7 linked regions of the Homo sapiens genome follow. Changing the gene in region 7 together with the main gene of any one other region gives a genetic interaction. Each region holds a gene or a part of one and is shown on either strand. Other genes may lie near its edges.

Region 1 (4,239 bases), about 54 Mb from region 7:
TTCGTCCAGGCCTCGGTCGGTCCTGTCGTCCCTGCTGGGCAGGCTGAGCCCTGCAAGGAGGGATTTCAGCATCACCAGGTCACTGTTGTCGAAGGACAGGTCGCTGGGGAGAGAAGATGCTTTCACCTGGGAGGAAGACGCTGGCAGGAGGAAGGCTGGGTCAGGGGTCAAACTAGGGTGGCATGGGAGCGTGTGGACACAGGCATGCAGGAGAGGCCAGGACGCTCAGAGGGAGGGCCGGGCGGGGAAGCCACATGTGCGTGGAACGGGACAGAGAGCCAGAGAGCTGCAGGGGTGGGTTCAGACGGCTTCGGCACAGGGTGGGGCGGCCTCTGCGCCCTGGGATGAGCACCACGCTCAGCAGCCCTCCCCGGCCTCAGGAGCAGCATATCTGACACGACACGGCCTTCCCAGGAACACCCTCCAGACCCCGCTGGACCCTCGCCGGAGGCCCGAGGCTTCCCTGCAGCCCGTGGGCACTCACTGGAGCGGGTCGGCGTGCTTCTGCAGGAAGGAGATGGCTGCTGGGGCATTGTAGGTAATGTACTTATGGATGAACTGCACAAACTTGTTGATGAAGGCAGCCAGATGGCGGGAGGACTTCCTGTAATTCTGCAAAGCAAAAGCGGCACCCTCGAGCTGCTCTGCCCCGCAGGGCCAAAACAGAGCCTGTGCTCCCATCTGCTCCCAGAGCCTCAGGGCATGGACCCCACAGCCAACGAGCCCCCTCTGCCAACCACTGGGGCGTCACAGGCCCAAGGGTGGCCGGCATGGCCTGTCAGGGTGTGGACATGGCTGTCTGGGGCATGTGCCCAGATGGATGAGGGGCTCGAGGTAGCACAAGCGACACGCAGAGAACAGCACGGAGGGTCTGGGCTGGGCTTCTGAAGGACGTGGGCCCCCCAGGCACGTGAGGGGCAGCAGGCAGGGGCTTCCCAGGGTGGGAGCTGGTCCCCAGGGCAGGTGGCCTGGCCTGGGCCCTGGCTGCAGAGGTCCTCCCAGTCCCTCCGCGAGTGGGTGAGGCAGGCCTGGGCCAGAGCAGAGGGAGTGGAAGGGAGCGCGAGGGCGGGCGGCGGGAGCACACACCAGCAGCAGGCGGATGAAGGACAGAAGGCAGTCCCACAGCGCCCCCTGGTGCTCGCTGCGGAACACGTGCGGCTGCAGCAGCTCCAGCAGGCCCAGCACGTGCAGGAAGCAGCTCAGGTGGTTCTGCTGCCGGAACTCCTGGAAGTTGAGGTGGGTGCGGCCGTGCAGGAGCGCCGCGATCATGGGCAGGTGCCTGCGGGCGCGGTGAGGGCCCAGTCAGCCCCGGCCGGCGGGCTCACCTGGCGCACGTCCCCAGGAAGGCCCCACTGCCTGCCCCGGGAGCCAGACCCCGTGCTGCCCCCCAACCACCCTCCTGCCCTAAGGAGGTGGGGATGAGATCGCCCCTCTCTGAGGCCCACCCAGCTCCTCCCACCTGAGGCCCAGCTCAGTCCTGACTTCCCCCGGTCAAGCTCAGCCCATGGGAACATGCTTTTTTTTGTTGTTTTTGGAGTTTTGCTCTTGTTGCCCAGGCTGGAGAGCCGCAGACCCCCCTGGTTAAACCAGTGTCTGGCGAGGGCAGGGCTTCTGGGACAGCACCTGAGCAGCAGCAGCGGGTGCGCCACCGCCAGCTTCCGGCAGGCCATGCTGGCATCCGCCCCTCGGTTCTCCAACGCCCGGGAGTCGCTGGTGTCCGCAAGGAGCGTGATGAAGCGGTGGATGAGTCCGTCCAGCTGCAGGGAGGGGCGCTCTGAGGCCGGGGCCGCTGGCTCCCCTCACTTGCCCACCCACACTCAGCCTGGCCGCCAGCTGTGGCCGTGATCCACCGCGTGGCACGCCATGAGCAGAGGAACTGGCTCCTTACGGCTTCCATGAGCACCTCGGGAGGGCAGGCAGGCCACAGCCAGCCTCTGGGAAAACCCCATACAGAATAAAAGCAAAGCTCCACACCAAATGATACAATGAGCGGGAAACAAGCCAAAACTACACATCGGCCAAGCAGGCGCAGTGGCTCACGCCTGCCATCCCAGCACTCTGTGAGGCCGCGGCAGAAGATCACCAGAGCCCAGGAGTTCAAGACTAGCCTGGGCAATGAAAATAGCCCTCTCTATTTTCAAAAATACAAAAAGAGTAACTGGGTGTGGTGGCACGTGCCTGTGATCCCAGCTACTCGGGAGGCTGAGGTGGGAGGCTCACTTGAGCACAGGGGGTTGAGGCTGCAGTGAGCTATGATGGTACCGCTGCACTCCAGCCTTGGCAACAGACACCCTGCCTCAAAAACCCTCCACAAAACTGCACATCAAGTGTGATTTCAACAAATAAAATGACATATAAGTGAAAAAAACCACAAGCAGAAATGATTAGAGAAAGTCAGCTGCCCTCTGTGGTACCAGCAGAAGACAGGCTGCAGGTTCCGGCCTGCGGTGGGGAAGCGGGTACGGGAGGCCCAGCTCTCCCCACCAGGGTCACTGGAGAGGAGCAGACGCAGCCGTCCGCCAAGACCCGGGCACGAGTCCCCAGCAGCTGTCACTGCCCCAAACTGAACGTGACCCCACGTCCACCAGCAGGTGAACAGATAAACCAACGGCCGATCCACACAATGGCAGGCCACCCAGTGCCCACAACACCACGACTCTCCAGACTGTGCGAGCAGAGCACCCGCAAGCTCCCTCGGTATAAAACTCAACGCAGACAAACCCACAGGGCCACAGGGCGGCGCGGACTGGGAAGGGGCAAGAGGGGTAGCCGGCGATGGCCATGTACACTGTGGCCTCCGCCCTCCCTCCCTGCCCGGCCAGGGCACCTGGGACGGCGGCGGGGAGCGGCAGAGTTGCGCCCTCACCTTGCAGACGCTGCTGCTGGCAGCCCCTTCGCTGTGCAGTAGGACCTCAGGCACGGGCACCCGCAGCTCCGGCCGCTGTAGGTAGAGCTGCAGGAGAAGGTCTCGGCAGCGCCTGCCCAGCACGCTGGAAGAGGTGGAGCAGGGCTCACCAGGCGGACGGGGCCCCAGTGACAGGGGTGGGTGGACGGGACCAGGCGTGATGGGAACCCACCCAGGGCTGGGCCTCGACCCCCTCCATGGCTCACTCCCAGGCAGCATCTGGGGCCGGGGGGCCTGAGCACCTGTCTCCCCACTGCTGGATGCAGCCTGACAGGTGCTCCGTCACCTTCCTGACACTCTCATCGTCCCCACAGCAGCAGCTGAGCAGCAGGGGCAGCCGGGCCTGGATGAGGCTGCAGGCGGCTGTGTCCCCGTCCTGGCTCCGCGTCTCCGCCTCGGCCAGGATCAGCTCCACCAGGCTGATGAGCTCCGGGCCCTGGACCCGCAGCACCAGCTCCTCCCGCCGCTTCTGTAACGGGTGCCTGCATCAGCCCCGGAGCACCACCGCCTCTCCCGGATGGGCCACCCCCTCTCCCGGATGGGCCACCCCCTCTCCCGGATGGGCCACCCTCCCAAGACCTGCCTGCGGGGTGCGCTGGTCCCGCCCCTGCCAGATGCGAGGAACATGGATGCAGGCCCAGAGGAAGTCCAGAGAGGCAGAGGGGTCGAACCTGTGGGGAGGCAAAGGTTCCAGAGCACGAGGTGTCTCGTCTCAGCATGGGAGATACCAGTCAGAGCCGGCGCTGGGAGATTTCTGGTGAAGGCCAGTATGCGCGCAGCCCAGGTTGGGGACAGGGAGGCGCCCACCTCTGTTCCCGGCTCTTGCCCAGCAGGACTCGGATGCACTGGTGCAGTGTGGGCCAGCTGGACTGATGCGTGAAGAGGGTCAGGAGGTAGGGACGGAACGAGGGCACCTGGGCCTGACCTTTGCCCTGGGGAGGGAGGAAGAAGCCCGGATGGCCTCACCTGGGCCAATGGCAGGCTCTGCTGAAGTCAGCTGACAGCTTCCCCAATGAGCCACTCAGAGAGCCGAGGCTTGGGGTGCTGCCGGTAACACCGGCCCCGTCATGGTGCTGGAGGGCCGCTCCTGGTGGCTGCGCTGCATCTCCCCGCCCCTTCCCACGGGAGCCATGCCACACAGCGGAGGTGCCCGGGGCTCCATGCAGCCTCTCTGGTGAGGCCGTCCCTCCCTGGAGGATGTGGGGAGCCCAGCACCTGCCCTCCCTTCTCCTGGCCACAGCCCCATTCCCTTTGGGAAGATGGAGGCCCCTACATGATCTACAGGGTTTGGCAGGGCCGACCCCACCCCATCCACCCACCCCATCCCCACATCT
Region 2 (4,239 bases), about 20 Mb from region 7:
AAAAGTAAGGGTCTGAGATGCTGTCCCCATATCGAAAACACATCCACGGCCAGGACTTCTGCTGCATCCACCCACGTGGGAGATGAGCACTCAAATGAAGATGGGGCAGGGGGCAGTGCACGGGGCTGGGGGTGATGCATGGAGCTGGGGTCTGGGGGTGGTGCACGGGGCTGGGGGTGGTGCATGGAGCTGGGGTCTGGGGGTGGTGGACAGGGCTGGGGGTGGTGCATGGAGCTGGGGTCTGGGGGTGGTGGACAGGGCTGGGGGTAGTGCATGGAGTTGGGGTCTGGGGGTGGTGGACAGGTCTGGGGGTGGTGCATGGAGCTGGGGTCTGGGGGTGGTGCACGGGGCTGGAGGTCACTGATGCACACGGCCCACTCTGCTCACCCCTTGTGCCCCGCCCACAATCGTGTGCCACCAAACTCTGCCTTCCACAAATCCTGGCGACACCCTGGGCTTCCTGATTTGACAGTGAAAAGTAAGACAATTTGTCATTCCTGGATTGATTGTCCATATCTTGGGAGCATTCAGCCACAGGGCATCTAATGACCAAGTGCCTGCTTGTGCTGGGTCTAGGTCTGTGTTCCAGGAGCTGGGGACTGGCCAGAGACGGAACAGACAGATGATTTTAATATATGTTTACAAACTGTAAAAACTGTCATGAAGAAAAAGTACAAGATGCTGTTTAAGAGGTCAACCCAGGAGATGGCCTCTCCTAGCCCGGCCTTCAGGTGGGACTCTGTCTGCACCAGCTGGGGCACTCCTGGGCCCATGTCACCATCAGCTGTTGGGCAAAAGGCTTGGGTCATGGGAGGCAGAGGAAGTGACATGGAAAAGCCAGGACTACAAGACCTGGGGCTGATGAAGTACGGAATAATTACAAGCTGTCTTAGGCCCCTGATCTAAGCATGCCCCTTGTTCTCCACACTCAGACCTTAGATAGTTTTTGTGTGTGTGTGTTTGTTTGCTTTTGAGACAGGGTCTCACTCTGCTGCCCAGGCTGCGACGCAGTGGCACAAACATAGCTCACTGCAGCCTTGAACTCTCAAACTCAAGCAGTCCTTCCACCTCAGCCTCCAGAGTAGCTGGGACTACAGGCGCACACCACCACACCCAGCTAATTTCTGTATTTTTTGTAGAAAAGGGATCTCACTATGTTGCCTAGGCTAGTCTCGAACTCCTGGGCTTTGAGGGATCCTCTCATCTTGGCCTCCCAAAGTGCTGGGATTACAAGCATGAGCCACTGCACCCAGCTAGCCCTTAGGTGTTTAATAGAACAATTCGGCCTGGCTCCCCAAAATGCTAGCAGACCACAGGATAAACCAACCAACTCTAATTCCCAGATGGCTATCTGCAAATGCCAGGCACACAGGCAGGAAGACAGCTAGGCTCTGTCTACCAACAGGCAGTAACTCACCCTTAGAAGGAGGCCTGTTAAGTCTCGGGGAGAAATCCAGAAAGGAATTTCATTTCGCTGTGACCTGAAATGGCTACATGGCATGAGGGCAAATAGAAAAGCCTCTGCTCTAGTCAAATGCTTCACACAGATTTCTAAACATGTGTCTCTGCCCATAGTTGAGGCCTTAAGAACTTTCTGGAAAGTAGATATTTGTTTCCCCCAAAATTAGTCCATACGACTCTTATTTATCAAATCAAAATAGCTTTAAGAATTCATGACACTGAATTAGCCGGGCGTGGTGGTGTGTGCCTGTAATCCCAGCTACTTGGGAGGCTGAGGCAGGAGAATCGTTTGAACTCGGGAGGCGGAGGTTGCAGTGAGCCAAGATCGCGCCATTGCACTCCAGCCTGGGCAACAAGAGTGAGACTCCAACTCAAAAAAAAAGAATTCATGAGACCTACACTCAGCTGCAAATGCAAGTGGCCACTCTGGCTGGGCAGTGGCCAGGAATTCTCTGGCTTAGTCATGACCACTGCCACTTCAGTGCTTCAGCCTAGAGCCAGATAAAACTCCAGCTGGCAGCCATAACAACCCAGGCCTGCCTGTTTGACGGCCTCTGGAGCCTGGAATTCAGACAATAAGTGAATAGCAGTTAGGACCCTGGTACAGAGGGTGAGCATCTGGGACAGGCCCCACGTGGGAATGAGGCCAGAGAACTCAACCAAAGATGACACCAACTGACTGTCCCGGCCTGGATGTTTAAAAAGAAAACAATTACTTGCCATGAGATGAAAAGATTCTTTTAATTGCAAGGAAATAACTAATTTACTTGAGAATCACAGAATGAAATTAATTCAGGACAGTTTTACTATTCGAGTCAACTAAAGAGCAGCAAATTGAACCCACGGTAACTGTGGTGGAGTAAGAGATGTAACCAAGAAAAGGACACATTCCTTACCCTTACCCTGCAGGGTAAGCGGATATTCTGTGGCTTTGTAATCTGGCAGGCCTTTGGGAAAAACCTCCATTTTGCTCTCCCCTTTCATCATTCTCTACCCCGGCACTTTGGAGAAATCGGTAGATTTACCTCCGTGAAACCACGGGACAGTCTGACAAATCGGCCTTTTGCCATCCCATATCCTGGGTCAGATCAGGGTCTGGGCTCGGCCAGGGAATGGGATTAAGCCCCACACATTCACTTCCTAATCACCCACCCATGGATCCGCCAAGCCTCTGCTGGTTTCCTCCAGCACCCGACGTACTAGCAATGCCCCTTCCTACCACCGACGGGTGCTCTCTTGAGAAAATGCACGTTCACGTTAGCCTACCCACAAACCAAACGAACCAAAATTAAAACTCCAGGGGGGGAAAACAAGACATTATACAACCTCGAGGCAAACAACTTCTGGCTTAGCCCTTGCTTGAGTTATCAGTACAAAGGCGCCGTTCTGTTGGATGGGTGGAACCTGAGAGCTGCCCGCAGTTTGGGGTTGAACTGGAGACAGAGAACCTCTGCTGGGCTCACACCAGGGCCACCGGGCTTGGTAACTTACTGGTCAGTGCAGCAAAGTGGCTGAGTCCACATCGGATGCGGGAAACCTGGATTTCTGGGTTGAACTCCGTCAAGCCAAAGAGAGTGGGTGGAATCATTTCAGGGACGGCACTTTCCACTAGGTTTGGACCTTTCCCAAGAATTCCATAGCCCCAGACAAAAACATGTCCTTCTCCTACATTACAGTAAAAACAAGGGTCAGTAAGTCCATCCAAGTAAGAACCTCCCTCACCAGAAACTCAAACTACACCACCAAGGTTTATGACATCCACACGGTTTTTTTTTGTTTTTTTTTTGTTTTGTTTTTTTCCTCCTTGCTTGGCAAGAACATGCAGACAGAGATTTAGAATAATAATTCTCTCTCCCCTGCTTAAATTCTTGCTGGGGGAGTCTGTCTCGCCAGCTCTCCTGGCTCAGAACACAAACTTCCCACATCTTGAGGGTTAGTAACCTGGAAGGGACGAGCGTATAAATCATCCAGAAAACCCATACGAATACCAGAGAATTGGAGGATGTTTTCTCCCCCTAATGACAGCTCTGTGTTTCACACTGATCAGAAGGCCAAACACATCAACAATGTCTGGCCAGATTCTTAAAACTCTTAGAAATGATGTTTTGGTTATAGAAAGTTTAATATTCATCAGTGGTGCCAGATATTTCATCGTTATCCAAAGCTGAAGGCTGTTCTCCCATCTGCCTTTGATTTTTTGGCTGGAGAAGGCAGAGCTGGAGTCTCTCTGGCCCAGGCTAAGGGAGGGGAATGAAGTAGTTCGCTCTCCACTCCAGAGGTTTGCTCTAGGATGACTCAGCTCTGTGGCCATGTATCTACAGATAAATCGCAGACTATTCGCTTTTTGTTAAGAACTTCATTCACACCCTGTAATGCCATCTTCTAATCCAATGCCATCTTCCCATGGCCATAGTCCCTTCCTTTTTTGAAACAGGGTCTCACCGTGTTGCCCAGTGCAGTGGCATGATCATAGCTCACTGCAGCTCGAACTCCTGGGCTCAAGGGACCTTTCTGCCTCAGCCTTCTGAGTAGCTGGGACTACAGGTGTGCACCACCATGCCCAGCTAATTTTTCATTTTTTCTTTTTCTATTGAGACAGAGTCATCCAGGCTGGAGTGCAGTGGCGCAATCTCGGCTCACTACAACCTCTGCCTCCTGGGTCCAAGCAATCCTCCCACCTTAGCCTTCCAAGTACTAGGATTACAAGCATGTACCACCATGTCTGGCTAATTTTTCTATTTTTAGTAGAGTCAGGGTTTCACCACGTTGGCCAGGCTG
Region 3 (3,884 bases), on a different chromosome or scaffold from region 7:
GGGCCTCCCACCCAGTCTCGCTGGCTGTCAGTTTGAGAACCTCAACAAATTACAGAGTTGTTTTTGCAACTACAACAGATCGGTGCTTTCTGGAGCATGGATGGCTTACAGACTTTCTAAATCCTGAGACTGTAGAAATCCCCTCCTCAGTCATGGGTCGTCGGGCTGGTGGAGTAAAGGGAGGGTAAGAGAGCTGGGACTCAAAGACCAGCAACTCATCAACTGTGAGTATGTGTGTGCTTGCTTAGGGGGGTGGAGTCCCCCTGGGTCCCCGGTGGCATTCAGGGGAAGACTGTACTGCAGGACCTAAGGAAGGATGACAGGAGCTGGGCGTCCACAGGGCAAGGGAAATCTCAAAAGTTGTTGGTTTCCAGAGTAAATAGCTATCTTATGCAAATATGTTCTAATTATTATTTTTTTTTCAAGTTGTTGTTTCTGAGTTCCAGCTGACAAATTCCACCATACAGACCAGGCGTAGGTGCAGATCAGGAAAGGAATCTTAGAACTCAGTGGATGTAAGCCCTGCCCAGCAGACCAGCCCCTTCTACCACTGACTTCCATTTCAGACCCTTCTCCACAGGAAGGAACTGATGGCCTCCTAAACAAGCAGCCATCAGCTTGGCCTTGCTACCCTTGAGAGAAGGACCCAGTAACCATTATCAAACACAATGAAAAGCAGAGGAGGGTTCTGACCAAGAACTGCTCGCTTTGTATCTCCAAACGATGCAGTGCAAATCCAGTGGCAAATGCAGGAGAGGCAACCACAAGCACATGGCCAGCCAGAGTCCTAAAATCAGAACAACAAAGTAAAAGGGTAGAAGGGGAAATATGCTGGCTAAAAAAAGAGCCTTTTTCTTTGGGACAGGTCCCTGTATGGTAAAGCAAAGAGCTAGACTTTTGGCATATAATGACATCTACTTCTGAAAAGGAAGACTTAACCAAAAAAGCTTAAGGGCCCAGAAGAACAAAGTTACTGTTTTACTTCTCAAGCAGGTGAGAACCAAAGAGGACAAAACCATCATCCTTCAGGCCTGCTACTCTACTAATCTCAGATGAGCAATTCAGAGGGACTTAAAAACCTTCGGGTAGGAGCAGAGCGCAAGGAAACAGCCAACTTTCCCCCAAGAGCACATCCCAAACTGCCTGCCCCAAGGGCTCATCTAACGGTGGAATCACACATATGCCCCTCCATGGAACTCATTCACATAACAGAAAGACACCTGCGGCCTGCAAGTCAAAAGACAACTGCAGGCTACAAGTCCAATACTGCTCAGAACCTAAACTGGGGGAGAGAGGGGTTGACAGGTGTGGGTAGAGCTCTTAACTGGCTGACCCTGGGGGTCTATAATTCCTTTTCCTTCTTTTTTTTTCCTCCCTTTTCATTACCCACAGTATAATGCTTTTTAACTATCTATCCACTTGACAGCCCAGGATTGCCGCAGTCCATCAGTCCATCTCTCATGTAAGGTCTTGTTCAGGGTTGGAAGCACAGACAGGATGCCTCGGGAAGACTCTCTCACCTCAGAACACTCAATCCAAAGAATGCCCAATATACCACCAGGCACAGTAAACTCAAACAACAGAAGCACCGAAGTTCAACTCAGATATCATTCTTGCCTATCATTGAAAAGACACTAAGTGGAATGGCCTGGGGCTTATATTTGGATGGAAAAACAGACTCTGAAAGAATGTACTGGAAATATGCTTGAAGTTCAGCTTCATGAAACGATTCCCCTCAAGTCAGGTACCCTGAGAGCCTGTTTCTCTCAGCTCTACCATGCTGCCAGTGGGAACCAATGGGCTGGACAGTGGTGCTTCAGGGTAAACAGAGGCTTCCTATGTCTGTTTACAAGCCCAGAATGCCCTTGAGAGGAGCCAGGCTAAGAAAGGTGTGATGAGTCAGTGGACTTCAGAGCACCAAGGTGGTTTGGACTCCCGGTCAGGTATGTACTACACAGGCAGTGACTCAAGAAGGCAAACTGCTCATGGGGCCAGGGGCCCAGTACCAGCTCCAGGCACTGAGGGAAGAGAAGAAGGTGCAAAGAGGGAGGACTATAAGACAAAGAAATGAAGCAGGAGAGTAAAATTCTTTTCATAAAAAAATTAGCCTGATAGATAACAAATATACAAAGTTAAAATTTGTTAAACACACTGATACTAGGAGAAAAGACAAATTGGTATTTGTTCCCACGTAAGTGCTAACACGAACATGGACATGGACGAGACATGAACTGCTGCCTTGGGCAGCAAACAGAGACACCTGGGCAGAGGAATAGACACAGCCAGTGCGTGAACTGCTCCTCAACACAACGCCTGACAAACAAATATACACACATTTTTTAATTGAGGAACCAAAGGAGAAGAGGAAAGGAGAGAAAATCTTAAAACTCAGCCCTGGGCTGAGGAGGCGCCACACAGCACTGAGTCTGCCACAGAGGGCGATGGGGTGACTGGCCAGGAACTCCTAGAGCAGCTTCTGGTAACAGTGGGTGCAAAGCAATGAAAGACATACTGGCCACTGGAAACATGTTTCTTCTTACTTTGGGGGTGGGGCAGAGGCAGGAAATACAAAAGCCCCTGCCTCGTGGGCACAGCGCCACCAACACTACACTCTGAGTATCTCCAGGCAGTTGTTGTAGCAGATGGCGATCCAGTCGGGCTGAGTTGATGCCCACTGCACATTGTTGATCTCTCCTTCAGCTGTGTAGGCCAGGATAGGGTCCTCAATGGCTCGGGGCATTTGCTGGATGTCCCAGATGAGAGCCTGGTGGTCATCCGCTAGGGACAAAGAAAGCCAGCAAGCAAGGTCACAAGTGAGGCAATGCGGATGATGATCCCTGCATTTCAGGAGCAAGTCACAGTTTACAAAGCACCCCCGTGATGGCGGTTCTATTTTAAGCCCCCATTTTATCGATGAGGAAATCGAGATTCAGAAATGTTAAGGCACTTGTTCCAAATCACACAGCTATTCAGCCAAGTGAGTGGCAGAGCCAGAACTCAAATCTAGGCCCTGACTCCATCTCCCAGATGTCCCCAGGCTCTATCCACTGCACTAATGAGTCCTTCTCATCTGGGTCAGGTATCAGGAGTGGACAAGGGGATACCAAACATGTCATTTGCAGCCACTTAAAATACTTGAGTGGTTACAAAGATCATTCTCTGATCATTCAATATAATGAGAGCGTTTCTTCCCTGTTTGATGGACATTTATGCTTCAGTGAGGTGTTATATAGAAGACTGATAAAGTAGTGCTGATATGTGCTGTTAAAAAATTCTTTCCTGGCCAGGCATGGTGGCTCACACCTGTAATCCCAACACTTTGGAAGGCTGAGGCAGGCGGATCACCTGAGGTCAGGAGTTCAAGACCAGCCTGGACAACATGGTGAAACCCCATCTCTACTAAAAAAAAAAAAAAAATACAAATTAGCCAGGTGTGGTGGCACACACCTGTAATCCCAGCTACTTCGGTGGCTGAGGCAGGAGAATCGCTTTAACTCGGGAGGCAGAGGTTGCAGTGAGCCGAGATCATACCACCGCACTCCAGCATGGGTGACAGAGTGAGACTTCATCTCAAAAAAAAAAAAAAAATCCAAGAAAATAGCTATGGGAAACACCAGAAAGATGGTAATCACTTTAAATATATAAAAGCACATGAAAAATAAGTAGAAGGAAATATATTAAAATGAGAATGATGGCAATACTAAGATGGCAAGGTTAGGATTTATGTTTACTTTTCTCTAGTTCCTAAGTGATTCGTAATGTGCTCATATTACTTTTTTTTTTTTTTTTTTTTAAATGGAGTCTCATTCTGTTGCCCAGGCTTGAGTGCAATGGTGCAATCTCGGCTCACTGCAACCAAAGCCTCCCAGGTTCAAGCGATTCTC
Region 4 (4,239 bases), on a different chromosome or scaffold from region 7:
ACAATCTCGGCTCACTGCAACCTCCGCCTCCTGGGTTCAAGCGATTCTCCTGCCTCAGCCTCCCGGGTAGCTGAGATTACCGGTGCCTGCCACCATGCCCGTCTAATTTTTGTATTTTAGTAGAGATGGTGTTTCACCATGTTGGTCAGGCTGGTCTTGAACTCCTGACCTCAAATAATCCGCCTGCCTTGGTCTTCCAAAGTGCTGGGATGGTAGGCGTGAGCCACCGCGCCTGGCCTAATTTTGTATGCTTGTAAGTTAACATTATGTGCCTTTGTATGGATTTGAAATATAAGGATAAAAATCAACCATATTTGTATATTCACTGAATAGCCACTATTCTGATGTATTTAACATCATATATATATGTATTTTTTTTTGTTGTTTTTTTTTTTTTGAGACGGAGTTTCACTTTTGTTGCCCAGGCTGGAGTGCAGTAGTGCAATCTTGGTTCACTGCAACCTCTGCCTCCCGGGTTCGAGTGATTCTTCTGCCTCAGCTTCCCAAGTAGCTGGGATTACAGGCATGCGCCAGCACACCGGCTAATTTTTGTAATTTTAGTAGAGATGGGGTTTCACCATGTTGGCCAGACTGGTCTCAAACTCCTGACCTCAGGTGATCCACCTGCCTTGGCCTCCCAGACTGCTGGGATTACAGGCGTGAGCCACCACGCCTGGCCAACATCCAGTATTTTTGAGTACATGGTTTTCATATACTTAGGCTATACATACATGTTCATGAATTGTATTCATTTAATTATGCTTCTGACTTTACTTGTTCTCCCTAGGGGAATATCAGTTATGCGTGCTTAGTAAAGTTGTGTTATTTTCCAAGATGAAAAATTGCATATATTTAAGAATCATTATTCAAGGGCATTGATTTGTGGGGGGTAGAAAGTTATTATGTGGCCTTTTGCTCATTAAAAACACTGGATCTTTATACTTCCTTTCAGAAGACAGATACTTCTCAGGAGTCAAAGGTAAGAGCTCTTTATAAAGTTTGAAGGAGACCTTTGAACCTTTCAGGTGAGGGGATACGTGCCCCTAGTGGATGGTGACCTCAGCCTTGCTTGTGTTGTATTGTTTTGGAGACAGGTCTTACTGTTGCCCAGGCTGGAGTGCAGTTGTGTGGTCTCAGCTCACTGCAGCCATGACCTCCCCAGCTCAAGTGATCCTCTCACCTCAACTTCATGAGTAGCTGGGAATATAGGTGCGCACCACCATGCCCAGCTAATACTTTCTATAGAAACAGGGTCTCAGTGTGTTGCCTAGGCCGGTGTCAAACCCCTGGCTTCAAGTGATCCTCCAGCCTCGACCTCCTGAAGTGACTGTGGGCCACTGCATCTGTCGTTTGTTTTTTTTGTTTGTTTTTGTTTTTGTTTTTGAGACGGAGTCTCGCTCACTTGCCCAGGCTGGAGTGCAGTGGCGCGATCTCGGCTCACTGCAAGCTCTGCCTCCTGGGTTCACGCCATTCTCCTGCCTGGCCTCCCGAGTAGCTGGGACTACAGGTGCCCGCCACCACACCCAGCTAATTTTTTGTATTTTTAGTAGAGACGGGGTTTCACCATGTTAGCCAGGATAGTCTCAATCTCCTGACCTCATCATCCGCCCTCCTCAGCTTCCCAAAGTGCTGGGATTACAGGTGTGAGCCACCATGCCCAGCCTGTCCTTTGTTCTGTTTTTGATCACTGAGCTATGGTTGAAGGGAAGTAAAAAAAAAAAACAAAAACAGACTTACTTTTTTTTTTTTTTTTTGACACAGGGTCTTACTTTGTCACCCAGGCTAGAGTACAGTGACGCAAACGTGGCTCACTGCAGCTTCAGCCTCCAGGCTTCAAGTGAGCCTTACCTCAACCTCATGAGTAGCTGGGACTATAGATGCACACCATCATGCCTGGCTAATTTTTGTATTTTTTTGGTTAGGGTATTTTTTTTATTTTATTTTATTTTTTGTTTTTTTGGTAGACACTAGTTTTGCCATGTTGCCCAGGCTGTTGTTTTAACTCCTGGGCTCAGTTGATTCACCCACCTTGGCCTCCCAAAGTGCTGGTATTGCAGGTGTGTGCCACTGCACCCAGCCTTGGGAAGTAAAATGATAAGATTTGGGGTTTTGTGAAAAAGATAAAATGGCCACACATGCCAGTATGGTCTTGTTGTTGGATGTTGAGAATGTCATTGTTTGAGAAGTGATTGTGTTCCCTACCTGTGACTGTTACATGAGTATATTCTTAAAAAATAATTTTCTTAGAATTAGAAAATGGGAGTTCAGTTATAACCACTGATTCCTTACCTGTTACCGAGGACTTCATGGTCCAAAGTTACTTCTTTTCTGGTAGGCGCAAGCAAACTGTCGAGTAGGAGTTGCAGCACTGAATACTCTAGCAGGCTATATTGACTGGGTGTCTATGAGTCACATCACTGCTGAAAACTGTAAACTCCTGGAGATACTGTGTTTGCTGTTGAATGAACAGGAACTTCAGTTGGGAGCCGCTGAGTGTCTTCTCATTGCAGTCAGCAGAAAAGTAAGTTACCACTTCAAACTGACTTATCCTCAGTCTCTGAAGTAGGCTGTGTATGTGTTTAATTGCATGTTGTGGCAGAAAGTCATTTAAAGGTTTGGGTTTTTTTCCTTGGGGCCAACTTACTGCCTGCTTCCAACCCCCTTGGACAGGAGTTTGCCAATATTCAAGGGATCCTTTGGCAGAATGTGGAGATTTATCAGGCTGCATGGTTCTTGAAATAGCCATGATACTTGGCAATTTACAGTTAACAGATAAAAGTAAATGTTTAAGTTTAAAGCTCACTTAATGAATGTCAAGGAATCTTGGATGGTGGCTACAGTAGGTTTATATCTGTCTTTTTTTTTTTTTTTTTTTTTTAATTGAAACAGTCTTGCTCTGTCACCCAGGCTGGAGTGCAGTGGCGTGATGTTGGCTCACTGCAACGTCCGCCTTCCGGGTTCAAGCGATTCTCCTGCCTCAGCTTCCCGAGTAGCTAGGACTATAGGCACACGCCACCATGCCCGACTGATTTTTGTATTTTTTAGTAGAGATGAGGTTTTGCCATGTTAGCCAGGCTCTTCTCGAACTCCTGAGCTCAAGTGATCTGCCCTCCTCAGCCTCCTAAAGTGCTGGGATTACAGGCGTGAGCCACTGCGCCAAGCCTATGTCTGTCTTGGCTAACCAATGGAACTGTGACTCTTTTCTCCATAGGAATATTATCTACAAATGTAATTTACTTTGCTGTCATATCAGCATTATTGCCCAACACATTTATTTATTTATTTATTTATTTTTTGAGATGGAGTCTCGTTCTGTTGTCTAGGCTGGAGTGCAGTGGCGCAATCTCAGCTCAGTGCAACCTCTGCCTCCCGGGTTCAAGCAATTCTCCTGCCTCAGCCTCCTGAGTATCTGGGATTACAGGCGTGTGCCACCACACCCAGCTAATTTTTGTATTTTTTAGTAGAGATGGGGTTTCACTATGTTGGCCAGGCTGGTCTCGAACTTTTGACCTCAAGTGATCCACCTGCTTTGACCTCCCAAAGTGCTAGGATTACAGGTGTGAGCCACGGCACCTGGCCTAATTTTTGTATTTTTAGTAGAGACAGGGTTTCACCATGTTGACCAGGCTGGTCTCGAACTCCTGATCTCAGTTGTTCCGCCTGCCTCGTCCTCCCAAAGTGCTGGGATTACAGGCATGAGCCACCGCACTCGGCCTGCCGAACACATTTAAAAATGTAAGTTTATGCTTTTTCACTAAACTGATAGTTTTGAGAAAAAATATGTAGTTTATCCAGATTTGGTTTTAAAGAGTTGGGCTTCTTTCTAGTGTTTCACTAAACCCTGGGGTATATAAGAAATTATGAAGTCAATATATTTGATTATATACTTACAGAAGATGTCGGTACTTTGAAGTATAGTTTATATGACTATGTTTCCCTAAAATTGGGTCTAGGGCAAGTTGGAAGACCGGAAGCCCTTGATGGTCTTATTTGGAGATGTTGCCATGCATTATATACTCTCCGCCGCACAGTGAGTATCTTTACTTTTCAGTGTGTTTTCTAATTTCTTTGTCATTTTTCTATCTTATTTGGATTTATCTGAAGTTCTTTTTTTTTTTTTTATTTTGAGATGGATCTCGCTCTGTCACCCAGGCTGGAGTGCAGTGGCGCGATCTTGGCTCACCACAACCTCCGTCTCCTGGGATCAAGCGATTCTCCTGCCTCAGCCTCCCGAGTAGC
Region 5 (4,239 bases), on a different chromosome or scaffold from region 7:
TTAAAAACGGATACAGGTCAAAAGCTAGGCCTCTTGCACCAGTGCAGTTCTTGAAGAAAACTAATAGTGCTACTCCACTGAACACATAAATGATATGAAAGCAAGACAGACTTATTGCTGATAATACAGAGTTTTACTGGTCTGGATTAGATCAAACTGTATTCCCTTAAGTCAAAGCTTAATCCAGAGCAATGCCCTAACTCTCTTCAATTATATGAAGGCTGAGAGAGGTGAGATGCAGAAGAAAAGTCTGAAGCTAGCCGTGGTTAGTTCATGAGCTTTAAGGAAAGAAGCCATCTTCTTAATATAATAGTACACAGTGAAGCAGCAAATGCTAATATAGAAGCTGCAGCACGTTATCCAGAAGATCTACATAAGATCATCGATGAAGGTGGCTACACTAAACCACAGATTTTCAATGCTGACAAAACAGCCTTACATTGGAAGATGCCGTCCAGGACATTCGTAGCTAGAGAAGTCAATGCCTGGCGTCAAAGCTTCAAACGACAAGCTGACTCTTGTTGGGGACTAATGCAGCTGGTGACTTTAGGATGAGGTCATTTACCATTCTCAAAATCCTAGAGCCCTTAGGAATTATGCTAAATCTACTCTGCCTATGCTCTGTAAATGAACAAAAAAGCCTGGATGATAGTACATCTGTTTATAGCATGGTTGACTGAATATTTTAAGCCCATTGCTCAGAAAAAAGATTCCTTTCAAATTATTACTGCAACAATGCCAAGAGCTCTGATGCAGATGTACAAGGAGATTGACACTGTTTTCATGCCTGCTAATAGAACATCCCTTCTGCACCCCATGGATCAAGGAGTAATTTTTATTTTCAAGTCTTATTATTTAAGAAATACATTTTGTAAGGCTACAGCTACCACAGATAGTGAAGACGCTGATGGATCTGGGCAAAGTAAATTAAAAAACTTTCTGGAAAGAATTCACCATTCTAGACACCATTAAGAACATTTGTGACTCATGGGAGGATGTCAAAGTATCAACATTAACGTGAGTTTGGAAGAAGCCAATTCCAACCCTTATGGATGACTCTGAGAGGCAAGACTTCAGAGGGGGAAGAAACTGCAACTATGGTGGGAGTAGCAAGAGAACTAGAAGTGGGGCCTGAAGATGTGACTGAATGGCTGCAATCTTATGATAAAGCTTGAACAGATGAGGAGATGCTTCTTATGGATGAGCAAACAAAGTGGTTTCTTGAGATAGAATCTGCTCCTGGTTGAAGATGCTGTGAACACTGTCGAAATGATAAAAAAGAATATTACATAATCTTGGTTGATAAAAAAGTGGTAAGGTTTGAGATGACTGACTAATTTTGAAAGAAGTTCTGTGGGTAAACGGCTAAAAACAACATCTCATGCTACAGAGAAGTCTTTCACAAAAGGAAGAGTCAATCAATGCAGCAAACTTCACTGTTGTCTGATTTTAAGAAATTATCAGTCACCACCACCTTCAGCAACCACCACCTTGATCAGTCATCAGCCATTAACGTGGAGGCAAGACCCTCCACCAGCAAAGATTATGACTTGCTGAAGATTCAGATAACTGTTAACATTTTTAAAGCAATAAAATATTTTAAAATTAAGGTTATGTACTTTTTTTCCAAGACAAAATGTCATTGTACACTTAGTAGACCACAGTATAGTGTAAACATAACTTTTATATGCACTGGGAAACCACAAAATTCCTATGACTTGCTTTGCTGCAATATTCCCTTCATTGTGGTGGTCTGGAACAGAACCTGCAACATCTCTGAGGTATGCCTATATATTGCAGATATCTACTCCCAGACAGTTACTTAAATTTTTACTTTAAGACATAAAGATGTTTTACAGTTTGATATACTCAAATTCATCAGTCTTTTCCTTCTTATGTTGCTTAAGAAATCCTCAACCTCCTTGATAACAGAGAAAAGTTCCCTTAAAATTGAATATTTTCTGGCATTTTCACTATTTTCTATTACTTATTTAACAAACCTTAATTTGCCACCAACTGCTTCAATTCCACGGGTTATCTTGAAAGATGAAGCTCCTTTTGTCGTCTTGAAAAAGAAAGAATGATTATCTTTGTAGCTTTTCAATGCCAAGTTTGCCAAACATCACACTATATCAAAATCTGTTGTGAGCAGATTTAAAAAGAATTTTACTAAATTCCTGCATCCTTTTTAGTTAAGAATTATAAAACAAGGCTCAACAAAAAGCTTAAGTATACATTTTTACATTAAGTACATTCATGTAAAATTTCCACTGTCAAATACAAGCTTACTGGATTCATTAGTCTATTCTGAAAGAGACTTGTATATGGGAAAAAAAGAGTTAATTTTCTTTCAATTTGCGGCACTTCCTGTTAAAAATTTGTTTACTGATTTCTTATGCTCTAACATCAACATTCATATGGATACTAATTTAGTGCTTCTCTGTGGCAAATATCTTGTGGTTTCTCATTTTACATTAGGGGACAGTACTGGGTTTAACAGTGTTCCCCCCCAAATTTATGTCCAGCCAGAATATTTGCATGTTACTTTATTTGGTAATAAGGTCTCTGCAGATTTAAGTACTTAAGATGACATCATATTGAATTATAGTGGGCACTAAATCTAATGTAACTGGTATCCTTATCAGGAGGAAATGTGGACACAGACAGAAGGAAGGCCATGTGACAACAAAGGCAGAGACTGCAGTGATGCAGTTGCAGGTCAAGGAACATGAAGGGTTGTGGGCAACTGCTGGAAGCTAGGAACAGGCAGGGGAGGATTTGTGCCTTCCTAGAACCTTTAGAGGGATCACAGCCCTGCTGATATCTTGGCTTGGCTTAGACACCTTGACTTGGACTTCTAGCCTCTAGAACTGTAACAGGATAAACTTATTTGGTTTAAGCTACCCAGTCCGTGGTAATTTGTTATGGCAGGTCAAGGAATCAAAATATAAAGACATTGATCTTAGTTTTTCTTTTTCACAGGACCAAGATACCACAGCATTTCCAAACACTTGAGGAAGTGAAGATACTCACCAGACTGGATGTAAGACGCAGCAAATGGGTGGTTCCTAAATTGCTGAAGTCCTCATATCTACTGCCTGCTTTAATGAACAAACCAATTCTTGATACAGGAGAATAGTTTTCCAAAGAAGCAATCACCAAGCCATTTGGTAACTTGGTAAACTGTATTTAAAATAAAGTAGAGATATAATGAATGTCTTCGTATTACCAAGGAGAGTAAGGCATGTATAGCTTCCAGCGAGCAAGTTAGTGGGACTAACCTCAAGGTCCTGAGGTTGTGGCGGTGCTCCTGCAGGCGCAGCTGTGGCTTTAACTTTGGGGGCAACTTTGAGGGAATAAAATCTCTAAACATAAAAAACACAGGTTACACGTATTTCTCACAAGAACAGTGCTTTATATAAAAGCATGGTATCTTAGGGTACCCAAGCGACAGAGGGTGTTCGGGGGTGGAAGGAGCAATAACCACCTCCATGGGAGGATTTACCTGCATAACATTTTTTTTTTTTTTTTGAGACAGAGTGTCTCTCTGTCGCTCAGGCTGGAGTGCAGTGGCGCAATCTCAGCTCACTGCAACCTCTACCTCCTGGGTTCAAGCCATTCTCCTGCCTTAGCCTCCCAAATAGCTGGAATTACAGGTGCGTGCCACCATGTCCAGCTAGTTTTTGTTTTGTATTTTTTAGTAGAGATGGGGTTTCACTGTGTTGGCCAAGCTGGTCTTGAACTCCTGATCTTAAGTGATCTGCCCACCTTGGTCTCCCAAAGTGTTGGAATTACAGGCGTGAGCCACTGCACCCCGCCTAGCTGCATAACTTATTATGGACTTACTAACCCACCAGTTTACCCAAGCCATTCTTAAACCTCTATTTATTAGTGATTTATAGAGTTCTTGATGCTTATTTTTTAAATGATGTAAAGAATCACTGTATTTTCTTATCTTTCAGTTACCTTATAAAAGTTTCATGGTTCTGTGTAGTTCTAAAGCTTTGGCATTTTTTGAAAAAGTGTCAGATCACCCCATCCACAACCTTTTTTGTTGAGTTGGAGTCGTGCTCTGTGTCCCACGCTGGAGTGCAACAGTGCGATCTCGGGTCATTGCAATGTCTGCCTCCTGGATTCAAGCGATTCTCCTGTCTCAGCCTCCCAAGTAGCTGGGATTACAGGTACATGCTGCCACGCCTGGCTAATTTTTTGTATTTTAGTAGAGATGGCGTTTCACCC
Region 6 (4,239 bases), on a different chromosome or scaffold from region 7:
AGGCAGAAGAATTGCTTGAACCTGGGAGGCAGAGGTTGCAGTGAGCTGAGATTGCACCACTTCACGCCAGCCTTGGTGACAGAGCGAGACTCTGTCTCAAATTAAAAAAAAAAAAAGTTTTTAGTTTTGTTTTGGATTTGAAGCAGGAAGCCTTAAACAGTCCTATTTATCTAAAAGCCAGTGCTTAAATTTTATACCCAGGAATTGTTTGGCTTATTTCTACTTCCTCTTCTTTAATAATAGTAATAATGCAGTTGAGAATAATAAAACAAATGTAGCAAAAGGCTAACAAATGGTGAACCTTGTGAAGGGTGCATGGGAGAGTTCTCCATTATTTCCAAATAAAAATGCTGTGAAAGATGCACCTAGCTTTTATCTAGTATCTATTCTATGCCAGGATCTTTTCTAAACACTTCATATTATATTGACTAATTTGATCCTGTCATCTACCCTGAAAAAGACTAGACAATATTTCTATTTCATAAGTGAGGAAACTGAGGCATATAGGTTAAGTAACTTGCTCAGTCACACAGCAGGCTGGGATTAAACTCAGATGGTCAGACTCAATTTTGCACTTGACCGCTGCACTCTCCTGCCTCTTTAAATCCAAAGCTATAGTTTTGCAGACTTGGCCCCTCTGTTTTGGGTGGCTATTTGACAGATACAGATAGAGAAGATACCTCCCTAGAACACTGCCACCCCATCTTAGACTCTTCCAAACCCCGCACCTTAATGGAAATCACAAAGTGTCCTCCATTACGCAGGAAGGTGTGGGCATTCAGGGCCACAATCCGGGTCTGGTCTGGCTGGGCCACATCAGCAAAGATCACATCCACCATTGCTAAGGAGAAAGGAGCAGCAGTTAAAAGTTGGAGTCACAGGGATCACCCCAGATCCTCCCATGGGGCCTATGCCCATCACCAGCAGGTTCCTGGGAGATTCTCCCTGCCTCCAGTTTCACTCCCCACCTCCACTGGTCCCCCTCCCTCCAGTGTCCCAAGATGAGTCCAAAACCCACAGTCACATCATTCATCCACTCTTCTTGTAAACCATGGTTGCCACCTACTCTGTGGCCAGCCCTGGGCCGGGCGTGGGGGACATAGAGACGAGTCAGACCCGGACCCTGCCCTCGAGACGCTCCCAGGTCTGGTGGGGAGACAGACACGTCATCAAAAAGACAAGTAAGAGTGAGTGAGCACTTATAGGCAAGAGTGTCCGCAGGACTGTGAAATGAAAACAAGTTGCAGAACAAAGGGGATGGTATGAGTGCATGGGAAAAATAAAACACAGAAAGAAAAAGGAGCAGAATGAAAAATAATGTTTTTAAGCCAGTGTGACTTTTCAAAAAATGAAAAGGTGGTATAATGAAAACTGATTATTTAAAACCTGGGAAAAGCAGACATCAAATTGTTCTCATCAGTTACTTCTGGCGGTGGTTTATAAGGCTTTTCAACTTTTATATTATATCTTTGAATGTTTTTTTAAACAAAGTAATTAATATTCACAGTGGGCCCCTCCAGATCAAGCCATGCTTAGTTTTCTGGGATATGCTCTCACCAGACAATGATTAGGACCCCCAAAAGGAGGCTTTTTATGGAGGGGTAGTGTAATAAATACAAGAGGCAGGAAGTACAGGAGACCTAGGAGATGGGGAGGAGACTGAAGGAGAAGAGGTTGGCCCTCCAAGGGTGGCTTCCAAGACTCTGAAGCCAAGCTGCCACCTCCACAACCTCACCTAGCTCCCCTTACCCCTTTCTATTCCTGCAGACTCAAGAGGTCTGCTCATCCACTCCAACTCCATCCGAATCAGAGATCCACTGGCTTCTTCCAGAAGCCTGCGGTGGCCTGTCCTACCCCACCGGGGCCACCCCCAGACCCCTCACCGATGAGCATGCGGTATTTGTGTGGGTGTCGAGCATCCTCGATCACAGGAATGATGTTGGTCCTCTTCTTGGCCAAGTTAATGAGGTCACGGCCAGAGCGGTGGGAGAACTCGACTGCATAGACTAGACCATCCTAAAATAAATTAAAAATTAATGAACAGTGATGCTAGTTCTCATGCATGGAGTGCCTACTTTAGGCCCATACACTATACACAGCATCTCTTCCAACCCCCAAATCAAAACCCTACCATCTAATGACTATTGCTATCATGTCCATTTTTCACATGAATAAACTGAGGTCCAGACATAAAGTCACTGGCCAAGAGTTATTCAGCAAGTAGCAAAAGTACCCAATCCCATCTGCCTGAGAGCCCAGGTTCCCAACAGAGGCTTAAAACCAGGAAGCCAAGGCACAGAGATGATGTAACAATGGGCCAACCACTGCTCTAAGCACCTTTCAGAAATTAACTCATTTAATCTTCACAAGTCTATGTTCCAGACAGGTAAACTGAGGCTTGGATGGGTTAGGTAACTTGCCTGATTAAAGCCTGAGGTTTTTTTTTTTTTTTTTTTTGAGTCTCACTCTGTTGCCCAGGATGGAGTGCAGTTGTGCGATCTCAGCTTAGTGCAACGTCCGCCTCCTGGGTTCAAGCAATTCTCCTGTCTCAGCCTCCCAAGTAGGTGGGACTACAGGCACACGTCACCACACCCAGCTAATTTTTGTATTTTTAGTAGAGATGGGGTTTTACCATATTGGTCAGGCTGGTCTCGAACTCCTGACCTCAGGTGATCCACCTGCCTCGGCCTCCGAAAGTGTTGAGATTAAAGGCATGAGCCACCTCGTCTGGCCAAAGCCTGAGGTTTTAAGGCACTACACTTAACAGCTTATAAACACATAAAGTAACAAAGGGTAACAGAGTGGGACACGTGGGTGCCAGGGGCCCTCTAAATGGGAAGCCTATACAGGCTCAGAAACCATGAAGATCTCCTGGTTCTTTCTAAAGAAACCAGAAGAGCAGGTTTTAGCAGCATAAAATTTTAAAGAGGCCCATCAAATCAAATAGTCTGGTATCTATACTCCCCGTTGTCTCTCTAAGGTTGGTCACCCCACACCCACGTCTCTTCCCTTGAGGCCAAGAACCCAGGAGTGAGGTTGAATGACATTATCTGGTTCAAGCCACTCCTTTTACTCACAGGCACAGTGACAGAAAAGGGCCTGGCCCTAAGTCACACAGCGCAGGCAAGCAGTCAAACCCTGATATTCCAGGTTGGCAGAAGGGAGGCAGCCTTTACCTCCTGCCTGACTCTCCATCTACTCACTCACCGGACCAACGATGTCAGAGACATGGGAGACCGTGGTGCCCGAGGCAGCCCCGAGGTAGAGAACCTTAGCCCCCGGTTTGATGTGGATCTGGTCCACACCACCCAGGATTGCTGCTGCTAGCTTGGAGCGGAAGGGGTTCCAGGCTCGGTACTCAATTTTGTCATCTCCTTCCTAGATGAGAGATGGGGACAGAAGTCAGTGCTAGGCTCTTCTGCAGGACCTCACTGCCTTTAACCCTAGGAGCCTTGAAAGGAACTGGGCTGTCCTATCACTGCACAAGAACTCAACATGAGTAAAGAGCAGTGACCATGCACATGCAGTCGCTGCCCTCTCATGGAGGTGACTGACCCAAAGGGCAGCAAAAGAGAATAAACACAAACAGTAACAGTAAAACCAGCACTTGTTCAACAAACATGCACTGTGCCAGCACCTACTGTGTGCCAGACCCTGCTCTAGGCGCTGGGGATACAAAACAAGGATCCCTGCCCAGAAGGTGTAAGTATTCACCGAACTAACTAAATACAACATGGCATATGAGATGGTGACAGGTGTTAAGGAGAGAAGACAAAGCCAGGAGAGAAGATACGGAGTTTGGGAAGCAGGGCAAGGAGCAGGTGAAAATGGGAAAAGGGGCCAGGGAGGGGCTGAAAGGCAGATTCCAAATCAGACCTGAAGGAGGCAAGGGGCCATTCAAGTTATCTGAGGAAGGACATTCCCACGAGAGGGAGAGCGATTAGGAAGGCCCCAAGGCAGGCACACCCTGGCCTCAAAGAAAATGACACAGGATAACAGGACAGGGGAGGGCGGTGAGGGATGCCTTGACCCGCAGAGTGGTGTGACGCAGCCTGGAGAAGCAGATGATAAGGACGCAGCCTCCCACAGAGCTGGGAGTGGGAACAGCAAGGCCAGGGTGGCTGGAGGACACTTGGTCAGAGAGTTAGTGAAGGAGACAAAGCCAGGGGGCAGGGAGGGGGAACTGGAATGCACAGGGTCTTGGAGGCCTGAGTGAAGACTCAGGAGTCTAACTGGAAG
Region 7 (4,239 bases):
ACGTGTGGCCACCCTGTCTCAGTAGGAGCTGGAATCACCAGACTTCTCATTAAATGTGAAAAGTAAGTAACCCTTATCTTGTTTAAATCCCTACAACTAAGCCAACTGGCTCATACCAGCCATCCAAGAAAATTGCTCTAAATCTCTTATTTTTATAAGAATCTTGGTCAAAGAAAGCATTCCAGAGAATTCAGAGCAAAAAGGCCTTTCTGGGAAGCAACGGTAGCCACATATTTAGTATCAGAGATTCAGAGCCAAGGGAGTTTATGGGAGGCAATGCATATTTCACGCACTCTTATTCTCTTTAATGTTGCACAGTATTATCTAGTGCTTTAAGAGTCAAGTAGGGGCAGCAGTTCTCATAACGAGGCTGCTTCCAAGGCGGGTTTCACTAAGAGATTCCCATCTCCTCCTCCACACCACTAAACTGATGATTACCATTACCATATTAAAGATGCTTGTGTGTGAGCACCTGCATGTCTATTCCACTGTCAAAGCTGAAAAAGTGGAAATTCTTGAAGAGTGGTGCTAAAAAGTCTCTCTGGTCCCTGTGATAAGATGTGCATAACCTCAATTGCATCCTGAGAAAACACCAGCTGAACAGACATGGTTAGACAGTGTGCAAAGTACCTGACCCACACGTTTTGTAAGTGTCAAGGCCGTGAAAGACAAGGAAAGACACAGGAGCTAATATAGGTTAGAAATGGACTGAAAAGATTTGACAACTAAGTGCAATGTGGGATCTGGAGTGGACACAGAAGCAGAAGCACTGGCGAGCGCTGAGAAGTCTGTGGTTTAGCGGACAGCCTGTGCCAGTGGTCGTGCAGTCTTGCTCCCTGTGCCTGCTCATGTGAGATAGCATTTGGGAATGCCGGCGAGAGATGCAGGAGCTCTGTGCCCTATCTTAGCAACTCTCCTGTTAAGCCTAATTTCCAACTAAAAAGGCAAATGTAATCTACCAGGCTTTGGCTGTGGTCAACTTACTGTTGCTTGGTCCTGCCGCGTATGATTTCTAGGTTCTCAAAGGCATGGAGGTCCGTCCTGTTTTCAGGCCAAGCCTGAATCAGCAAAAACCCTGTAAGGCAGATGAAAGACTTCAGACACACACCACGTAGGAGTTTCTTTTTTGTATGAGACATTACTCTAGACTCTCAGGGACTCTGTATTATATGAACAGTAAGTGGGAAAATTGGATTTGCTTTCTTTTTCATTATCATCTTCTCTGAGTGTACATGCGCAGGGCGGACGCAGGCCGAGCCACAGTTCACAGCTGCCTCCCGCCTTCCGCTGCGATTCCGCATGTCTCCCGCCGCCCCCCTGGCTGTGGCCCTGAGACCCCTGCTGCGCCGCGTATCTGATTACCCCGAAGAGGCTCCTGCTGCGATTATCTGCCAATTGTGGATCTGGTATCACATACAAGGAGCTTTACAAATTTTCCTTATTTGATTCCAACCTTAAAACAGTCTTGTTATTTTGGTCTAATCTTCCCATTTTAGAGAGGAAGGAAGCGGAGCTCAGGCGGCAGTCATAGACCCGAGGCTTGCCCGTGGCCCCACAAGGCTCTGGCGTCCAGTTTCAAAAGCCTGAGGCCCAGGCTGCCTGTCACCTACCCCTGTCCCCTCCCTCTACCCTCAGGGGTTATGGGCCACCAAGGCAGCTGGCTGGGGCCGGGCGGGAGGGAGAAAGCGTGTTTACACCGCAGTGAATGACCCAAGCCTGGACTTAACGTGTCCCCTTTTGCCTGCAGGAGAAACTGCACTTTTGAAAAATATCAAAACATCAGCCATTAACGGTAAAATTTCAGAAGAAATGTTTTTATTCCAAGGGAACAGGAAATATGTCGAAAAGTTCTCTCTCTAAAACACTGATTTCCCATTTATATTCATGTGATAATTCAGCTCAAACCTGTGATTTCCTTTACGGTTTTCAGAATATCCAGTTCCTGTGGATCCAGAGGAGGAGTATGTGTGAAGGAGTCACTGAAACAAACAACAGGGTGATTATTGATCACCAATCTCTACCAGTTAAAAAGGCAGATTTTGTTTTTCTTTATACAAGCAACTGAACCTGTGACTCACCCCCTAAATGCCACCGGCAGGATGTGGAGATCGCCACTGATGGAGGTGCAGTTTTTGAAGTGTTTAATATTCGTAGCATTTATGGAGAGTGAGTCTTTAAATTCACCAATACCTATTCCGTTACACACTGCAGAGATAAGAGAGACGTGTATTCCGTTCACATTTGTTGGATTAAGAATAGCTAGGGATCCACAGGCAGAGGGAAGCAGGAAGGAATTCCGGTCACCGGAACCGCCACTGCCACATCATCCTTCATTCACTCAACAAACACTGAAGGGGCTGGGGAGAGTGCAGGCGGGAAGGGGGGACACCAGGACCTATAGTACACTTTGGGGCTACGGCGGTGTAGGAGATGCCATCCCTGTCACCTCACACTGACCTTGCGTTCTCCTCATTATTTCCCATGGGCCGCTTGGAGCTGCACTGCTTCCAGCTCTGCCTTCCCTGGATTCTCCCCAGGGCTGGGCACCTGGCAGCTGCTGAGCGGGGCTGGCTCTGTGACTGTTCTCATCAGAGCCCCCCACCCCGTCACAACCTTCAGTGCCTTCCCATTGCCTAACCTAGCTTTACAGCTTTATCTTCTGTTTTAAAGAAACGATATGTATAGTTGTTTTTTAATGAGAAGAGGAAGATGTGTTCCTTTGGAGGTGGCATGAGAGCCCAGCCTCAGCAGCCGAGAACAAGCCTCGTCCGCACACCGGCGGGCTTCCTACCTTTGCGGCAAGGCCCTTCGCACTTCTTACACTTGCGGACGCCGTCTTCCTCCATCTCATAGCTGTCGGCCCCACAGGCTCGGACGCACGAGCCGTGATCTGTCACCACATAATTACCTGGGGAAGAGAGCATGAAAGGAAGGTGATGACGGTGGCACCAGGTGCTCGGGCCTCACACAGGCGGTCCAGGTCCTCTTGAGGGGTGATGGAAAGGCTCCATCCTCCTTTGGCTTTATTTACTTTAAGGACAAAGAATGAAAGGTTGCAAATAGAGAAGGAATCCCGTTCAAGAGTTTAATAACATTCTAGGCCGCAATGTGGACAATACAGGTGTTTCATCATGGCAGGAAACACTGGGTCCCTTGAGGGGCCAGCTGTTTTGCGTCCCAGCAGGCACCTCAGCCCTCTCCTCCACCTGCTCTCACCTTTAAAGTAATTCATTTGTATTAATAGCAGACTTCTGCGTTATTTTTAGGAGCTCTATGTCTTCCTTTTTTGTTTGTCTGAGATGGAGTCTTGCTCTGTCACCCAGGCTGGAGTGCAGTGGTGTGATCTCAGCTCACTGCAACCTCCGCCTCCTGGGTTAAAGCAATTCTCCTGCCTCAGCCTCCTGAGCGGCTGTGATTACAGGCGTGCGCCACCACGCCCGGCTAATTTTTGTATTTTTAGTAGAGACGAGGTTTCACCCTGTTGGCCAGGCTGGTCCCAAACTCCTGACCTCAGACAATCCAGCCCCTTCAGTCTCCCAAAGTGCTGGGATTAAAGGCATGAGCCAATGAGCCACTGTGCCTGGCCTGTTCCTGTTTTAAGTTCCCCAAGAAGATCCTCAAAAATATTTATAGGACATTGATGATTCTTCTGTGAACCATCTGCTCTTGGTATCTCAGGCTCGAAGTGTTTTCCTATGGATTTTAAAGCTCTGTTAAGCCCTATCTCAAAGATATATCTGTGTCATCACTGTGGCACATTTTTCTTTAGCTTTGTTTGTCATTTACCTTATAATGGCTTATTATTTTGTGTTTTTTTTTTCCATACGGAATGTAAAATTTTTCATGTACACAAATCTGGCAGGGTAAAATCTCCCCCTCATAATTGTTCTTTCAATTTTTTTTCTCAGTTAATCTCCCCTTCTAGAGATCAAGAGTGGCTTCTAAAACTCTTTCATTAGACAAAGTTTTGCTTTCTCTGTCAGGAATTATTTTATGTCACAATTTCCCTAAACCCTGGAGCCACCAGTACAAATGTAAGTACAAACAAGCAAAACTCAAACCCAAACCATTAAAACAAAACAAAATAAAAACAAAAACAAAACCTCTGCAATACTCCTAAGAGGCATAACTTTCACTAGAATTTTAACCACTCAAGAAGGCAGGTCTTCTGATAGACTCTCTGATTTCGGTGTATTAAATACCTGCTTGGCACAAGCACTAAACAGTGGCATGCCCACG

Evidence for each region.
Region 1: changes in EGFR (region 7) and INTS1 together harm fitness more than expected from each alone (negative genetic interaction), as found in Homo sapiens cells (one large-scale study listed by BioGRID).
Region 2: changes in EGFR (region 7) and RCC1L together harm fitness more than expected from each alone (negative genetic interaction), as found in Homo sapiens cells (one large-scale study listed by BioGRID).
Region 3: changes in EGFR (region 7) and DCAF7 together harm fitness more than expected from each alone (negative genetic interaction), as found in Homo sapiens cells (one large-scale study listed by BioGRID).
Region 4: changes in EGFR (region 7) and XPO5 together harm fitness more than expected from each alone (negative genetic interaction), as found in Homo sapiens cells (one large-scale study listed by BioGRID).
Region 5: changes in EGFR (region 7) and UQCRC2 together harm fitness more than expected from each alone (negative genetic interaction), as found in Homo sapiens cells (one large-scale study listed by BioGRID).
Region 6: changes in EGFR (region 7) and FBL together harm fitness more than expected from each alone (negative genetic interaction), as found in Homo sapiens cells (one large-scale study listed by BioGRID).

What each region holds. Positions count from the first base shown.
Region 1 is NC_000007.14:1,473,082-1,477,320, forward strand, and holds part of INTS1 (integrator complex subunit 1), read right to left. Parts: intron 3,838-4,239; coding exon 3,713-3,837; intron 3,577-3,712; coding exon 3,489-3,576; intron 3,375-3,488; coding exon 3,148-3,374; intron 2,991-3,147; coding exon 2,867-2,990; intron 1,758-2,866; coding exon 1,624-1,757; intron 1,280-1,623; coding exon 1,087-1,279; intron 613-1,086; coding exon 485-612; intron 104-484; coding exon 1-103. UniProt on the Homo sapiens protein: Component of the integrator complex, a multiprotein complex that terminates RNA polymerase II (Pol II) transcription in the promoter-proximal region of genes.
Region 2 is NC_000007.14:75,052,949-75,057,187, forward strand, and holds part of RCC1L (RCC1-like G exchanging factor-like protein), read right to left. Parts: intron 3,777-4,239; coding exon of another isoform or gene 3,757-3,776; exon of another isoform or gene 3,565-3,756; intron 3,127-3,564; coding exon 2,953-3,126; intron 1-2,952. UniProt on the Homo sapiens protein: Guanine nucleotide exchange factor (GEF) for mitochondrial dynamin-related GTPase OPA1. Activates OPA1, by exchanging bound GDP for free GTP, and drives OPA1 and MFN1-dependent mitochondrial fusion. Plays an essential role in mitochondrial ribosome biogenesis.
Region 3 is NC_000017.11:63,587,894-63,591,777, reverse strand, and holds part of DCAF7 (DDB1- and CUL4-associated factor 7), read right to left. Parts: intron 2,779-3,884; coding exon 2,606-2,778; 3' UTR 1-2,605. UniProt on the Homo sapiens protein: Involved in craniofacial development. Acts upstream of the EDN1 pathway and is required for formation of the upper jaw equivalent, the palatoquadrate. The activity required for EDN1 pathway function differs between the first and second arches.
Region 4 is NC_000006.12:43,565,451-43,569,689, reverse strand, and holds part of XPO5 (exportin-5), read left to right. Parts: intron 1-952; coding exon 953-979; intron 980-2,335; coding exon 2,336-2,521; intron 2,522-3,953; coding exon 3,954-4,030; intron 4,031-4,239. UniProt on the Homo sapiens protein: Mediates the nuclear export of proteins bearing a double-stranded RNA binding domain (dsRBD) and double-stranded RNAs (cargos). XPO5 in the nucleus binds cooperatively to the RNA and to the GTPase Ran in its active GTP-bound form.
Region 5 is NC_000016.10:21,956,361-21,960,599, reverse strand, and holds part of UQCRC2 (cytochrome b-c1 complex subunit 2, mitochondrial precursor), read right to left. Parts: intron 3,366-4,239; coding exon 3,282-3,365; intron 3,184-3,281; coding exon 3,034-3,183; exon of another isoform or gene 3,016-3,033; coding exon of another isoform or gene 2,983-3,015; intron 2,066-2,982; coding exon 2,001-2,065; intron 1-2,000. UniProt on the Homo sapiens protein: Component of the ubiquinol-cytochrome c oxidoreductase, a multisubunit transmembrane complex that is part of the mitochondrial electron transport chain which drives oxidative phosphorylation.
Region 6 is NC_000019.10:39,835,828-39,840,066, forward strand, and holds part of FBL (rRNA 2'-O-methyltransferase fibrillarin), read right to left. Parts: intron 3,379-4,239; coding exon 3,208-3,378; intron 2,017-3,207; coding exon 1,884-2,016; intron 842-1,883; coding exon 729-841; intron 1-728.
Region 7 is NC_000007.14:55,154,499-55,158,737, reverse strand, and holds part of EGFR (epidermal growth factor receptor isoform a precursor), read right to left. Parts: intron 2,909-4,239; coding exon 2,792-2,908; intron 2,206-2,791; coding exon 2,079-2,205; intron 1,980-2,078; coding exon 1,906-1,979; coding exon of another isoform or gene 1,895-1,905; exon of another isoform or gene 1,799-1,894; intron 1,076-1,798; coding exon 985-1,075; intron 1-984. UniProt on the Homo sapiens protein: Receptor tyrosine kinase binding ligands of the EGF family and activating several signaling cascades to convert extracellular cues into appropriate cellular responses.